2 separate regions of the Homo sapiens genome follow, and region 2 is linked to region 1. The links come from fine-mapping of genetic effects on gene expression. A gene starts in region 1. The other region holds a variant in brackets. All regions are shown on one strand. Distances are between the middles of the regions. Region 1 holds the start of EXTL3 (exostosin like glycosyltransferase 3). Region 2 has its middle 37 kb from the start of EXTL3-AS1.

Region 1 (4,385 bases):
CCGAAATGAAGGGGTAACAAAAATAAAATAGAAATATGTTAATAGAAGTTTTCTGAGCTAAACTTAATAACCAGCGAATGGAGTAGGCAGTTTTAGGACGTTATGAAACGTCCTGGTTTCATATTCCTCGCCTCACTCTAGAGTAACATACAAAGGCGCTCGAACCTTTACCAAGAGTAGGTCTGATGGGACTTCATTTTTCTCCTAACACCTGAGTCTACATCAGGGAATCCCTCCCACCCTCCTCCAGAAGACCACCAGTCTCAACTGAGACAAGGACTCCGCATCACTCCTGCAGCCCCTCATCACCCATAACCCTCCAATCCACAGCTGGCCTAGGGCCCTGCGGAAAAGAACAGGTCTCTCTCTAGTCTTCTGCTGGCTTCAAACCACCCTCTGGACTTGCCCTCTCTCCTAGAAATACATTTCCCATGCTCGGCCTGGCCCGACTTACTTCTCTCCAAACTGTTCCCTTAAAATCTTTTTACTCCGAGGTCAAAACTCTTGAGGCCTAATCACTGAAAGATCCCAACTACACACCAAGTATTAACAGGGTTTTCCCCCACTAGAAAAGCGAGAAGTGGAGGGATACAGACATACGCCTGTCAATCATTTTTTAGGTAGGTATGCCCCTCACATCTCTGGACATTAAGCACGTTTCCGGAAGTCTGAAGAGCCACAATTCTGACTCTTCCAGAAAGCACTTAGGCTCGATTCTCTCTTGCTCGTGAGTTCTTATGATTCCTCCGGCTCCCCACAAGCAAACGAATGGGAAATTCCCACAGGATAAGGTATTTTTAACACATCAAATAACAGTTTAAGAAAACGGTTTTTCTTTCATCACAAAATATTTCAAAGTCCCTCTGCTAAATAGCAAGTCGCTGAGAAGGCTTCGCTTCGCTCCAGACTCTGTGCCCCGCAGTTACTATCCCAGCACACAGGTCACAGCGATAGTCACTGTATCAGAATGCAGGACTCACTGCCGAACAAAATACAGAAAACTGCAGAGTCTGCATGGCTGCAACACACAAAGCCTTTAAAAACAAAAGAAAGCACGGGGAGCTCTGCCAGTAAAAATGAAGCTACCTAAATTGGACAAAGAATAGGACAAAGTGACAAGAAATGCTAAAGACGACTCTTAAGTAAATCACATATGGGGGAAATAATGGACATGTTGTGGTGTTCTGCGCTTCCTCCTCCACCAAAGGAGTCGAACCAAGAGGACTTGATGAAGCTTTTAGAGTTTTTAAAAAGGGAAGAAAAATCCAGGTTGCGGGGAAGGGCGGGGGTGGGGTGGTGCGGGTGGCGGGGGAGGGGCAAAATCCACAAAATTTAAGTCTTCTGAGAGCCAAACAGATTTTATTAATAAAAGGAGCCGAAGCTCTCGCTCAATGTGGGGAAGAGAAAGCAGCACCCATCAGCAGCCGGGCAGCCCTGGCTCGCCTCCGAGGGGCTCGGAATAGGTGCTGTCCCCGTCGCTGGGCTCGGAGCTCCGCCGCGCACACACGCCCCGCGCACCCCTGTCCGGTCCAGCCCGTGCAGCGCGAGGCCGGCTCTAGGGGAGCTGGGCCTGGGAGCCAGGGTCCTGCAGCACCTGGACCCTCGGACAGGAAGCGGCTCCTCTGACTGTGGCTCCTGAAAGGAGGCGAGCCCGGCAAAAAGAGCCAGCGGGGAGGGCAGCAGGCGACTGCGTGTAGAAGCGGGGGGCAGATGTGGGAAGGTGTGCTCGGGAAGGGGTGGGGGTAGTCCGGAGCTGCGCCTCCGCCGACAGAAGATGCTCCGGGCCAGCAGCCAGAGAAACGCCGCGGGTCACAGAGGGTGGAGGGCTTCAGGGAGCAGAGGAAGCCCAACAGCTGCAGCCGAGCGTCCAAAAAAAGGTGGAGGCGGGTCCCGAGCAGCCCAAACTGGGACGAGAGAGGGCGTGTGGGGGCGGGGAGGGGGTGCCCCAGCCCAGGGACCCGTTAGCCCTCCCGGCTGCCGGCCGAGGGCCTGGCGGCCTCTCCCCGGGCCCCCGAGCCACCGGGCAGGCCTACTCCGCTCGGAGGCTGCATGCCTCCCGCCGCCGGGCAGCAGCAGCCTCCCCGGGGCACGGCGGACCCGGTCCCTCCCGCCGCGTCCCCAGCGCTCGGGGCCAGCCCCGGCACCCTCCCATGAGCCCTTCCGGGCGCGGCCCCCGCTCCTCGGGCTCACGCGCGGCCAGCAGTCCTACCGGCTTCCAGCTCAGGGACCCGCCGCCGCCGCCGCCGCCGCCTGCGCGAAAGTCGGCGTCCCAGAAGCCGTTCTGGCTGCCGGCCGCCCGCCTTCCAGGCCGCGCCTGATCCGCCGCTCCCCCTGCCGGCCGGCAGCCATTTCCGACAGGCGACTGCGGAACTTGCCGAAGGGCGCCGCGCCGGAAATGGCCGAAGCCGGCGTTCGCGAGCGGGGGCGCGGACGCGGGCGCGCGCTCGCCACTTTCCCGACCGCGTCCGAAGACCGCCGAGGCCTCCCGCAGCTCCGCGGTGACACCCGGGTCAGGGGCGCGGGGCCGGGCGCCGGGGATTGTGGGAGGCGCGGGGGGGCGCGCCGGCCGCCTTCGGAGCCCCCCAACTCGCGTCCTGCAAAGGCCGCCGGGCCCTGTCGAGAAGACCCGACCGCAGATGGCGGGGAGGATGCTCCCGGCGGCGTGGGAACCGGGTCTGACTCCCGAGCCACCGCCGCTTCCGCAGGGGCGCCGGCCCCGGGAAAGTCAAGTCATAAATCCCTGAATCTAAAACTCCATTCTCAGAGAAAAGGCCTCCAAGGACGGGCGCCGTGCGCGGCAACTGCCTGCAGTTTTGAAGCCCTTTGACTATTTCATAACAAAGACAAGGCCGGGCGGCTTGGACGCTTAGGAAAATCCTGGGGCTTTGCAAAAACAACAGGTTAATCTAGTCGTGTGGGATGATCACCAAAACAAGACAGGAAAGAAGAACACCGTGTCAATGCTGAAAAGCCAGCCCCTGTGAGCCCCAAAGTGCACGTTTTCCACAGTCCCAAGGAACACGTGACTGTGTGTTTCCACACTTGAGAAGTCAGGATAAGACCCCTTGGATAATGGAACAGGGGATGGGGGTGGGAGCAAGCACCCTACCTGGTCACCTGCTTAACTTAGAAACCAGCTTTTAAAACCTGTAACTGCAGTATGAGCTACGATCAAATTTGTCTTAACGTATTTTTTTTAATGTTTTTAATACCCAGAACACAGGGCTTCTACTCCAGGGTTTCCTCGCCAGGGAACCCCAAACACACAGGACCTGGAGAAGCCGGGTAGAGCTGGCTCCTGGCCCTGCGCTTGGGTGGTCGGCTGCCTTAAGAAGAACTGCACCCCAGAGACAGGCTCGCAGCTGCCGACCTTATCCACTCGCCCTTTCTGCTGGAGCCCAGGCCCAGTGCTCCAGCAAGGAGGCTGAGAAAATGCTGAAGACTGATGCCCACGGGGGACAGCTTGGGCTAAGGATAACGTTTGCAAAACAAACCTTTAAAAACCCATAGCAACCTGTTTCCTAGAGCACACTCTTCATCTCTCCACCCCCAAACTAGTCCCGACTCGGATCCTCCTTTTCCTATCCTCTTTCTCTTGCTCTCCCGTCTCCTATTCACTTTTCTTCTCCTTTCCTCTTGATTATTATAAACAAATGCTTTCCAAGTCTTACCGCCATCATATGTGTACATATGCAACCCTTACTGTTACCAATTTGTTGAAGTCAAGACAGGAGGAGGCAAAGTTTAAAAATCAGAAGTATTGCAGGAAATGAAAATGGAGTGAGTGTTGCCTGGGTATCATAATTTTTTTTTTTTTTTTAACAGTTCCTCTACTTGGCTCTCCTCCAAAGGTACGCGGCCACAGCAGGCAGGGGCTTGGCAGTGTGGGAGGAGACACCACAGAAGACAGGGAAGAACTACCAGGCCTTGGTTCATCTCCACACTGGCGAGAGAGGACGTGCAGTTACCTGCTACCTGTTCGACTCAGTCTTTTACGTTGGAGTAACTTAACACATTGCTGCCCTTAACTTTGACTTACTTGCTTTTAAAGATGATGAAGCTGGCCAGGCGCCGTGACTCATACCTATAATCCCAGCATTTTGGGAGGCCCAGGCAGGTGGATCACGAGGTCAGCAGTTCAAGACCAGCCTGGCCAACATGGTGAAACCCTGTCTCTACCAAAAATACAAAAATTAGCTGGGCGTGGTGGCGCGTGCCTATAATCCCAGCTACTCAGGAGGCTGAGGCAGGAGAATCACTTGAACCCGGGAGGCAGAGGTTGCAGGGAGCCGAGATCGCACCACTGCACTCCAGCCTGGGCAATAGAGCAAGTCTCCATCTAGGGAACAACAACAACAAAAAGATTATGAAGCCTTAGGAAGAAC
Region 2 (4,385 bases), 37 kb after region 1:
GAGGTCAGGAGTTCGAGACCAGCCTGGCCAACATGGTGAAACCCCATCTCTACTAATAATACAAAATTAGCTGGGTGTGGTGGCATGTGCCTGTAATCCCAGCTACTGGGGAGGCTGAGGCACAAGAATCACTTGAACCCAGGAGGCGGGGGTTGTAGTGAGCCAAGATCACGCCACTGCACTCCAGCCTGGGCGACAGAGTGAAACTCTGTCTCAAATAAAAAAAAAGAAAGAAAAGAAAAGAGTGGCTGGGCGTAAGCACGCCTATAGTCCCAGCACTTTGGGAGGCCAAGGTGGGAGGATTGCTTAAGTCCAGGAGTTTGAGACCAGCCTGGGCAACATAGTGAGACTCCATCAAAAAAAATTAGCCAGGCTTGGTGGTACACGCCCATGGTCCCAGCTATTCAGGAGGCTGAGGCAGGAGGATCACTTGAGCCCAGTTGTTTGAGAATGTAGGAAGCCATGATCATGCCACTGCAGTCCAGCCTGGGTGACAGAGTGAGACATTGTCTAAAAACAAAAAGAAAGAAGGAAGGAAGGAAAAGAAAAGAAAAGAAAAGAGACAGCAAGAAAGCAAGAAAGAACCTTCCGGAGTTTAAACTGATGCACTGAGTACCTAAGATCTCTCTCATCTCCCATTCAAGGACCCATTGAAATGATGAAAAAGGCATTTTGAAAAAGAGTGAAATAATAAGAGGCGCAAAAAGAAAGGCTGCCATCAGCAGGCAAGAAATCTTAAAAACTCCTGGAGGGCAGAAAGCATTAGGATGAGATTGACAAAGAAGCAGACAAGAAAACCACAGATTCAAACGCCACCAGGAAGGCCAGATCTTGAAAAGAAGTCCATGGAAGCTTCTAACTGGATGACGCCAGACAGAAGGCACAGAAGTGCACCATGGCAATCATTAGGATAATTCATTAAAGCTGGGAGAGTTGGGACTGCCAGTGTCTTAAACACATTCAGCTTTTGCCCTCCAGCTAAACATAGAAAACCTATCCAGAAAAGAATAAAAAAGCGTACTTGGTAATTAAGGTATGATTACAGGGCATAAGAAAAAAAATCAGATGGCAGGACTGCCTTCCTTAGAATGTACACAAGTAGGACAGGCACAGTGGCTCATGCCTGTAATCCCAGCACTTTGGGAGGTTGAGATGGACGGATTGCCCGAGCCCAGGAGTTTGAGCCATGGGCAACATGGTGAGACCGCATCTCTACAAGAAATACAAAAATTAGCTTGGTGTGGTGCCATGTGCCTGTAGTCCCAACTACTTGGGAGGCTGAGGTGGGAGGATCACTTGAGCCCAGGAGATTGAGGCTGTAGTGAGCCATGACCACACTCCAGCCAGGGTGACAGAGCAAGACCCTGTCTCAAAAAAAAAAAAAAAAAAAAAGTAAACAAGTGACGACTGAGCTTGAGATATGAAAGTAAAGGTGGCCAGACGTGGTGGCTCACGCCTATAACCCCAGGACTTTGGGACGCCTAGGTGGGTGGATCACCTGAGGTCAGGAGTTTGAGACCAGCCTGGCTAACATGGCAAAACCCCGTCTCTACTAAAAATACAAAAATGAGTCAGGCATGGTGGTGGCAGGCAACTGTAATCTCAGCTACTCGGGAGGCTGAGGCATGAGAATCACTCTAACCTGGGAGGTGGAGCCTGCAGTGAACTGATGTCACACCATCGCACCCCAGTCTGGGCGATAGAGTGAGATACCCTCTCAAAAAAAAAAAAAAAAAAAAAAAAAAGTAAAGGAAAACTTTCAGAATAAAAAGGAAACAGACAAAAATAGGTAAATGTGAGAGAAAAGGCTCAAGGGTGATAGAGTCAGGTAGTCCAATATTCCTTTCATAGGAATTCCAAAGGAGACAAAGAAGGAAGGGGAGGAAATCATCAAAGATATGAGAGAAAAAGACCCTGAGCTGAAGAGGAACTCATCTTCAGATTACAATGTCCACTGACTGCTGTACAGAGTGAATTAAAAAAGACCTAATGGTGTTGCATTCTTGTGAAATTTCAGAACGCTGGGCAATTTTGAAAGCTTCCGGGGGGAGATGTATATAAAAAGGAAAGGAAAGGGAATTAAACTGCCATCAAATTTCATCAACAATACTGGTTGCTGGAAGACAATGGAACAATATCTTCAAATGCCTGGGGAAAGGAATATCTTGAACTCTGGATTCTATAAAGAATCATCCGACACAGTTCAAGAATCAATATGAAAAAAAATATTGAGACCTGTCAAAACTCACATTGTTTACCACCACTCATTCCACGTGAAAAAAGTACTTTAGGTGTTTGCTTACTCAAAATGAAAAAAGACCCCAGAGGCCGGATGCAGTGGCTCACGTCTGTGAGCCATGATCACGTCACTTCACTCCAGCCTGGGTGACACAGCAAGACCCTGTCTCAAACAAACAAACAAACAAACAAACAAAGATGGAAAGAAAGATTCTGTCTCTGCCCA[T/C]GCACTCACCAAGGGAAGGCCACATGGGCACACAATGACAGGCAGCCACCTGCAAGCCAGGGAGAGGGTCCCTACCAGAATGTGACCATGCTGGCACCCTGATCCCAGACTTCCATCCTCCAGAATGGTGAGAAAATAAATGCCGGCTGTTGAAGCCACCCAGCCTGCTGTGGTATTTTGTTAGGGCAGCCCAAGCAGACCATGACAGCCCGCCAAATCCGGGTCTTTCTCTCTGCTCATTCTGTAACCCACTGCCTGTCAACTGTGTCTTCACCAATAGTCATTCCGTCACTGGTGAAGAAGGTGTCACCTGGTCAGGGCCCACGTGTATTTTCAAAAGATAAAGAGACAGCAATGTTTTCTCACTTATTTTCTTCCTCTTTTCCCAGGAGTCTATTCACTTCGTAACGCCTGTCTAACTGAGCAGCCAAATTTAGCCTGCCGCCAGCAATGGCAGCCTCCTCAGCCCTGCCCCAGAGAGGAAAACTGAGAGACACCAGCCTCTGCCTGAAACTGTCTTGCTGAGGGGAGGTTTGAGAACGCTGTCTTGTAAAGTGGAAGAGATTAGGGGTTTCAAAGAATAGTGGTCTTCAGGCCAGGCACAGTGGCTCACACCTGTAATTCCAGCACTTTGGGAGGCTGAGGTGGGCGGATCACTTGAGGTCAGGAGTTCGAGACCAGCCTGGCCAACATGGTGAAACCTCGTCTCTACTAAAAATTTAAAATTTAGCTGGGTGTGGTGGTGTGCACCTGTAATTCTAGCTACTCAGGAGGCTGAGACAGGAGAATTGCTTGAACCCAGGAGGTGGAGGTTGCGGTGAGCCAAGATCACGCCACTGTACTCTAGCGTGGCGACACAGCGAGACACCATCACAAATAAAAATAAAAGAATAATGGTCTTCAAATGGAGGTATAAGAACACTTCCTCTTCAGTACAAGGGCACCAACAGTTTGAAAGGAATTGATTTCCAGGCCCGCTTTTCTGCAACTGATCTGCCTGAGCCCTTGCCTGCGAGGGAGGGGCAGGGTCTTACTTTCCCCAGTAGCCCTTTTCTACTTTATAAAAAGAAGAGGACACCCCTTACCCATCCTAATCTTACCATGGCATGTTTCCTGGGGCACCAAACCCAATCCTGGTATTAGTGCTGAACCAACATATAACCACAAGGACTGAGTAAAATTTGCTTTTGCAAAGTCAGGGGCTTTCCAACATTTTTCCTTTCCCTCAAGCCTAAGGAGATCTCATTGAATTGCATGTGGATAGAGCATTAAAAATTATTTTTGACGATAAATCAGCATAGGGTTTTTGGCTCAGAATGAGCTCAAAGAATTAACTGATAGTACGGTAATACAATTATTTCCATTTCTATCTACTTTTTAATTTTTTGGAGACAGGGTTTCACTCTGTCTTCCAGGCTAGAGTGCAGTGGCACAATCGTGGTTCACTGCAGCCTCAAACAACTGGGCAATGGTGCAATCGCAGCTCAGCTCACTGCAGCCTGGACCTCCTGGGTTCAAGGAGCTCCCACCTCAGCCTCCCCAGTAGCTGGGACCACAGGCACGTGCCACCACGCCTGGCTAATTTTTGTATTTTTTAGAGACAGGATTTCACCATGTTGCCCAGGCTGGTCTCGAACCCCTGGACTCTAATTATCCACCCGCCTTGGCCTCCCAAAGTGCTGGGATTACAGACGTGAACCACCAAGCCTGGCTCTACTTTTTATACAAACAGGTTTCCTCTGCAGTGTCATGGAGAAACAGAATTGATTCTAGCAGTGAGTAGGAACCAAACCTAGACACATAAACTAACTGGAGAAAAAGGCCAACTGTCCCATTAAGGAAGATATTTCTAACTTAAATCTAACTCCCTATTTAATAGGACTTATTCATTGGAAATACATATTGTTGTTTTGGCCAATTT

The links.
Region 2: its variant is fine-mapped to the expression of EXTL3 in whole blood (TOPMed, PIP 0.98).

The regions. Positions count from the first base shown.
Region 1 is chr8:28,699,484-28,703,868 of GRCh38, reverse strand. EXTL3 (exostosin like glycosyltransferase 3) reads right to left here and starts at 2,368. Exons shown (of 7, transcript NM_001440.4): 1 at 2,210-2,368. EXTL3-AS1 (EXTL3 antisense RNA 1) reads left to right here and starts at 2,405. Exons shown (of 3, transcript NR_126027.1): 1 at 2,405-2,509; 2 at 3,826-4,385. RefSeq lists silencers at 1,800-2,209, 2,310-2,379, 2,450-2,629.
Region 2 is chr8:28,662,424-28,666,808 of GRCh38, reverse strand. It overlaps a transcript of EXTL3 not described here. Among named protein-coding and RNA genes, the nearest start is that of EXTL3-AS1, 37 kb to the left of the region's middle. The variant T/C (reference allele first, on the strand shown) is at 2,465.